2 linked regions of the Homo sapiens genome follow. The protein of the gene in region 1 purifies or fractionates together with the protein of each later gene. This does not show direct contact. Each region holds a gene or a part of one and is shown in the gene's direction. Other genes may lie near its edges.

Region 1 (3,823 bases):
ACTAGAGTGCTATTTGATGGATTACTTTCTCAAGGCAGGAAGGAGGTACAGATTCAATCTTTATTCTGCAAAGTTTTTGTAAACAGAATAAAGGAGGCTTAGGTTTGATGTTATATAGGTTACTTGTGGCCAGGAGGAGGTTCAGGATTCTTTGCCTTTTTGAAATGAGAGAGACACTAGAGAGAAAAAAAAAAAATTACATACTGAAGGGCTATAGTTTGATGAAGTCGGAACTCATGAGTGGCAGCTTCCCTGGCTTGTGCCCAGGGTCTATTTTGAGACCTTGTCAAAGCTTGCCTGACAGAACCTACCACATAACCATAATCTGGCCTGGTCCTCTTGCAAGTCAGGAAGGCCTGCGGTTTAGGATCAGTGGCAAGCACAGAAGGGGGAGTTATAAAGGACATTTTGCCTTCAGAAGATTAAGGCTAGGTTTTGGGGTGAACAACTACTTAGCCCGTATATCCGAGGATCCAAGTTTTTAGTGCTACCTCCTCCTCCCCTGCTTCTTCCTCTTATTAAGGAAAGCTAAGGAATAAAGGTTTTGTTTGTTTGTGTGTTTGTTTTGAGACAGGGTCTCACTCTGATGCCCACGCTGGAGTCCAGTGGTATGAACACAGATCACTGCAGCCTCGACTTCCTGGGCTCGGGTGATTCTCCCACCTCAGCCTCCCAAGTAGCTGAGACTACATGCATACATCATCACACAGGGCCAATTTTTGTATTTTTTGTAGAAACGGGGTGTCCGCATGTTGCCCACGCTGGTCTCTAACTCCTGGGCTCACATCGTTCACCCACCTTGGCCTCCCAAATTGCTGGGATTACAAGCATGAGCCACTGCGCCCGTCCAGGAGGAAAGTTTTTAGAAAAAGGTGCACAAGAAAGAGCATAGGATTGTGCCAGCATTGATGTTATCTTCTGGTTATATGAGAGTGTTTGCCAAGAATCGGTCAAATGTTTTACATTAGGGAAAAAGCATTATTGTTACTGGCATAGGGAGGGCCCCAGTTAAAATAGCAGTCCAATTCAGAGACCTTCGTATTTGTCGTTAAGATCAAAAGGACTCTTGGAATAATGGACTATGCTACAGGATTATTTTAAGTTCAGATAGATAAATTAGCTTCTTCCCAAATTCTCATTCTGCTTTTCCTGTGGTACTATATAGTATCATGAAGTTATATCTTTAAACTCTTAGTTTGTACTATGTGGTGTCTTATGAAAACCTTGATTTGTTTATACTTAGTGAATGAAACACTTGGGTTTAAAGTTCTTTAACTGATGTCACTTCTTAGGCTAGAAAGCTGTTGAAAGAACTTAGTGTTCCACCCTTAGACCAAGGTTCATGTCACCATATTTAACAGCAGCTTTGTATTACGGTCAAGATTGTTTGAAGAATTCAGCATACAAACTTAATTTACAGATGCAAGCCTGCAGATGGACCTCCCCACCCCCACTTTTTTGCTTTAGATTAGGTTGTGACTGGAGGAAATTTAGTTTTCCTTTGCCTTCAGTTATTTGCAGCTGTTCACATTTATGATGATGAGAATGATGATGATGATAATGTATTTAGGATTCAGTGTGAGGAGAAAAAATAAACTAGTTTTTCTTTCTTCCTTATCAGTTTATTCCCATTATCTTATTTTCCCTTCTCTGTCTCTGCCTTCCTTTCCTCCTCGGGAAAAAAAAGAAAAAGAAAAGAAATAAAAAGCAGCAGTGAAAGAAAGTGGTAAAGAGCTGGGAAAAGCCTTGGAATACATACCAGGGTGCTTTCTCAGAGGTGGAATATAAACACCTTCATTAAAGAATCATGGATTATCTTTTTCCATTGTTTTCATTTTGAACCCTGTATATCTTAGTGTTCCTTCATTACCACATTTTAACTACTTTTGATATAACAGATATCTTTACTGCTTTAGGGAAGCAAATTTAATTTTTATGTTACTGTTCTGAGCATGTTGTTCCTTACATGCCCACTTTCCTAAGTAGAAATATATTAACAGCTAGAAGAAATCTTTTGGCTTTCTGTTTTGTAAGTTAGAGTATACCGTACTGTATGCAGAGGATTAGGATGTTAAAATATTTATTTCCCTGTTAAATGGCTTAAATCATGAACAAACTGAATATATAGCATTGCTTTTTTTAAAAAGTGAGTATCCCAGTTAAGTGACCTAAGGATTATAGGACTAAATGTAGAAAAAAATTCAGCTTTAGATTAGATGTTTTTTCCCTTGTCACAGATAATGCTGTATCTAGGTGAACAGTCAAGGAAATGAGAGGGCATTGTTCTTGTCTTGCCAGATTCATCCTTTGCAATCAAATAAAGTTTGTTTTGTTTTTAAAATTGTGGTACAATATAGATAACATAAAATTTACTCTGTTGACCTTTTTTAAAAATATTTTTATTATGGTAAAATACAGTCATTTGTTGCTTAATGACAGGAATATGTTCTGGGAAATGCATCATTAGGTAATTTTGTCAAGCAAACATCATAGAGTATACTTACACTAACCTGGACAGTATAGCCTACTACACACCTAGACTATATGGTATAGTCTGTGGTTCCTGGGCCATAAACTTGTGCAGCATGTCACTGTACTGAATACTATAACTGTAGACAATTATAACACAGTGGTAAATTTTCGTGTATCTAAACATAGAAAAGATACAGTTAAAATATGATATAAAAGATTAGAAAATAGGCCAGGCATGGTGGTGTGCACCTGTAATTCCAGGTACTCAGGCTGAGGTAGGAGGATCACTTGAGATCAGGAGTTCTAGGCTGTAGTGTGCTATGAGCACATCTATGAATAGGCACTGCGTTCCAGCCTGGGCAACATAGTGAGGCCCCATCTCTTAAAAGGGCACACGTGTATAGGACAGCTCCATTATAATCTTATGGGACCACTGTAATATGTGTAATCCATTGTTGACTGGAACATCCTTATGCAGCACATGACTGTGTACATAACTTAAAATTTATCATTTAAACCATTTTTAAGTGTACAATTCGGTGGTATAAAGTACATTTACATTATTGTGTAACTATCACCTCTATCCATCTCCCTAACTTTTTCATCATCCTAAACAAGCTCTGCCCATTAAACAATATCACCTCATGCCCATAGCCCTTGGTAACCATTGTTCTACTTTTTGACTCTATGAATTTGTGTACTCCAGGTACCTCGTATAAATGGAATTATGTAATATTTGTCTTTGTGTCTGGCTCATTTCTCTTAGCATGATGTCTTCAAGATTCATCCATGTCATAGCATGTATCAGAATTTCATTTGTTTTAAGGCTGAAAAATATTCCTTCGTATGTTTATACCATATTGTTTAATCATCTTTTGATAGATGGGTTGTTTCCATCTTTCTGCTTTTGGGAATAGTGCCACCATGAATATGAGTATGCAAATGTCTGTTTGAGTGCCACATTCAATTCTTTTGTGTATGTACCCAGAAGTGGAATTGCTAGTAATTTGATAATTACCAAATTTCATTTGGTAATTCTATGCTTAATATTTTGAGAAACCACCATACTATTTTCCACAGTGGCTATACCATTTTACATTACCACCAGCAATGCACAAGGGTTCCAGTTTCTCCACATCCTTGCCAACATTTACTATTTTCTGTTTTCTTATTGATTGATTTTTATTTATGTTGAGCCAGGGTCTCACTCTGTCACCAAGACTGGAATGCAATGGCCCGACCACAGCTCACTGTAGCCTTGACCTCCCGGGCTTAAGTGTTCCTTCCCACCTCAGTCTCTCGAGTAGCTGGGAGTACAGGTGTGCACTGCCATGCCTGGCTAATTTTTGTA
Region 2 (3,823 bases), on another chromosome or scaffold:
TCCTCATATTTCTTGCTCATACAAAAAGAGAAAGGCAAAATACCTGGGGTAGCAGATGCCAAAAATGCTCATTCACACATGGTCTGCTCTCATGCTAGCACACCAGGAGCAGCCCAACAAGCTGAGACTCCCATATCTTGTTAGAACATTACTCACTTTGTCATTTGCCTCCCTGTACTCACTTATTGCCAGTCTTGTCAGTCACCAGGAAGCCAGCTGAACCCCTGCCAGAAGTGTTGTGGTGATGTAACCATAGGACATCTTATTTGCTTCCCCTTGAGGGGAAGAGTTATGGGATATGAAAAGAGTGGCTAGTGGGGAAGAAGACTTACTGGTGGTTGAATGCCCATCACTGTGATTCCTGGAATGATCAGTAATTCGTCCTGCGGAGCACTAACAATTGCTCAGGGGCTACTTGTTTTAAAAACCAAACCCACAAATATCCTGAATACCCATGAGATAGAAGCAGTGAAAAAGCTTTGTGGTTATTTACCTCCCCCAAGACCACAAAAGCATGGAAGGGTGGGCCTCATGCCCTGCCATCCTGACTATGAACACCACACTTGCAGGCCAGGGAATTATATCCCTCCTGGTTAAGAAGAAATCATAATTGCTCTGTGTCACATTAAAAAAAAGTACAGCTTATGTGGCAATCAGGATGCTAGCTTAGCAAATTGGCTTTCAGGTGGGCAGAAACTTGTTTTGGGTGGGGCTCTTCCAAACCAACTTGTTTTTCTTATTTCTTCTTGCTTAGCTACTTCCCACGGCTGGTGGCATAAATGCTCTGCTGCTGGGGCTTGGGCTAAATGCCAAGATTTTCATGAGCCCTCACCTGGCTTCACGGCTCAGTGAGGAAGTACCTAAATGAGGCCATGCAAAGCTACAAACGACATCACAGATCTTTTCTTGAGCACAAGATTTAGCCCATGTGTTGGGATTATTTAACCATGATGAATATAGGAGGGAAATATCAGGTCTGGTTACAAATGAGACCATAAAACAGGACAAGGGGAGAGGGGCAGTTATGTAATTACCCTTGCCAAAGTCTCTTTTTTCTTTCTTTTTCTTTTATTTTTTTGGAGACAGGGTCTCGCTCTGCCACCCAGGCTGGAGTGCAGTAGCGTAATCATAGTTCACTGCAGCCTCATCCCCCCAGGCTCAAGCGATCTTTCCACTTCAGCCTCCTGAATAGCTGGGACAGGTGCGTGCCATCAGAACCAGCTAATCAAAAAAATTGTTTTTGTAGAGAGGAGGTCTTGCCATGTGGATCAGGCTGGTCTTGAATTCCTGGGCTCAAGCAATCTGCCACCTCAGCTTCCCAAAGTGCTGGGGTTACAGGCATGAACCACCATGCCCCGACCAAAGTCACTTTCAACAGAAATTTGGAATCCAAAGCAAGCCAATGGGTAAGGTAGTTTACTTCGGTTTGTGTATAGAATAAGAGCTGTCAGCCAGGTGCAGCGGCTCACGCCTGTAATCCCAGCATTTTGGGAGGCCGAGGCGGGTGGATCAGGAGGTCAGCGGTTTGAGACCAGCCTGACCAATATGGTGAAACCCGTCTCTACTAAAAATACAAAAAAAATTAGCCGGGCATGATGGTAGCCACCTGTAATCCCAGCTACCTGGGAGGCTGAGGCAGGAGAATTGCTTGAAACCAGAAGGCAGAGGTTGCAGTGAGCCGAGATCGCACCACTGCGCTCCAGCCTGGGCAACAAGAGTGAAACTCTGTCTCAAAAAATAAATAAATAAAAATAAAAAAATAGAGTAAGAGCTGTCACATGTGGCTTCATTTTATCTGGCTTGGTAAAAATATTCCAACCTGTGACTGAATTCTGATTTCTTTTTCTTATTGTCCCACCTTTACTTCCCCTTTGTTTTGATATCTTGCAAATAGAGGGGCTCCCCAGTAAGGTTGACGGGCCTTTGGTGTGTCCCAGAGCTGGCTAGTACAGAACCAGGGCTTACTAGAAAAAGGCTCCCTGAGCAAAGTTTCTCCATAGGGGTGATATGACCCATACCTTCATGAGAATAATTTTTAGAAACAGCTAAGAGAGGGCAAAAATTTAATCCATTTATTTCCCAAAATTATCCAGAGCAGGAAATGATAAAAAGGTAGTTACAGGCTGGGTGGGATGGTTCATGCTTGTAATCCCAGGACTTTGGGAGACCGAGCGGGAGGGTTGCTTGAGCCCAGGAGTTCCAAAACAGCCTGGGCAACATATTGGAACCCTGTCTCTACATCAAATCAAAAAATTAACTGGGTGTGGTGGCACGCACTGGTAGTCTTGACTACTCAGGAGGCTGAAGTAGGAGGATCTCTTAAGCCCTAGAGGTCGACGCTGCAGTGAGCCATGATCATGCCACTGCACTCCAGTCTGAGTGACAGAGTGAGACCCTGTCTCCAAAAATAATTATAATAATAACTGGTTAGTGTGTTATACAGTTATGGGGACAGGGGAGATAAACCCTATTTCATAATCTTAAGGTATATAGGGATTGGGCTTTGAAATTAAATTTACCTAAAGTCACTTCTTCCCCTCTTCCCTGGTTTTTGCCCTTCACTTGCTAACTCATGACCCTGTTTCCTTTCTAATACTTAATCTGTAGTGTCTGTTTGTTTAATGTCTGTCTCCCTCACTAGAAGATGAGCTCCACGAAGGCAGAGGAGCCTTCTACACCTGTCCTATTTTTTGCAGTGCTGAACACAGTGCATAACACACATTAGTCACTCAGTAAATATTTGTTGACTGCACCTCAATCCATAAACTCAATTGTGCGATAAATAGCACATGCTCAATTTCCTTTAAATGCCTAAAATGTTACTTAAGCCATGACTGAAGCTCCTTCCCGTCGTTGGATGGCATCAGAATCCAGGGGCTTAGACAAGGTCACTTTAAAACCTTTGTTGAACTGAAGCACTTTTACTTTGTTACTTTTTTAAGAAACGGGGTCCTGCCAGGTGCAGTGGCTGATGCCTGTAATTGCAACACTTTGGGAGGCCCAGGTAGGAGAATTGCTTGTGGTCAGGAGTTCAAGACCAGCCTGGGCAACATACCCAGGCTCCATCTCTAAAAAAAAAAAAAAAGGGGTTGGCCAGGCATGGTGGCTCACACCTATAATCCCAGCACTTTAGGAGGCCAAGGCAGGCAGATCACTTAATGTCAGGAGTTCGAGGCCAGACTGGCCAACATGGCGAAACACTGTCTCTACCTAAAATACAAAAATTATCTGGGCATGGTGGTGTACACCTGTAGTACCAGCTACTTGGGAGGCTGAGACAGGAGAATCGCTTGAACCCAGGAGACAGAGGTTGCAGTGAGCCGAGATCAAGCCACTGCACTCCAGCCTGGGCGGCAGAGCGAGATTCTGTCTTAAAAAAGAAAAAAAGGGTCTCACTATGTTGCCTAGGGTAGAGAGCAGTGGCTATTGATAGGTGCAATCATAGGGTGCTATAGCCCTGAACTCCTGGGCTTAAGCAATCCTCCTGCCCCAGCCTCCCAAGTGTCTGGGACTACGGATATGCCACGCTGCCTGGCTTTCACTTTTACTTTTGAGAGTTTCATTCCATATCATATCAAAGATATTAAAGCAAAGCACATTGTATGTGCTTTCTGCTATAAAATTTTTGAAAGAATTTTTATAACTTGTATAGATTTTGAATTTTGTTATAAATAAGTTACTCATTTGGTTCTTGAGGTTTAAACATTATTATTTAACAGTTCGGTTAGAGTTGATGCCAGGTTGCATTTTACAGATGCTTAAACATTGATTAATTTTGATTAATTTTGCTACTTTCTTTTCATATCTTGGGGCCAATCATTTT

What was found.
Region 2: the proteins of LRRFIP2 (region 1) and TMIGD1 purify together in Homo sapiens (co-immunoprecipitation; one study listed by IntAct). This does not show direct contact.

Annotation. Positions count from the first base shown.
Region 1 is NC_000003.12:37,167,818-37,171,640, reverse strand, and holds part of LRRFIP2 (leucine-rich repeat flightless-interacting protein 2), read left to right. Parts: intron 1-3,823. UniProt on the Homo sapiens protein: May function as activator of the canonical Wnt signaling pathway, in association with DVL3, upstream of CTNNB1/beta-catenin.
Region 2 is NC_000017.11:30,320,426-30,324,248, reverse strand, and holds part of TMIGD1 (transmembrane and immunoglobulin domain-containing protein 1 isoform 1 precursor), read left to right. Parts: intron 1-3,823. UniProt on the Homo sapiens protein: May control cell-cell adhesion, cell migration and proliferation, cell morphology, and protects renal epithelial cells from oxidative cell injury to promote cell survival.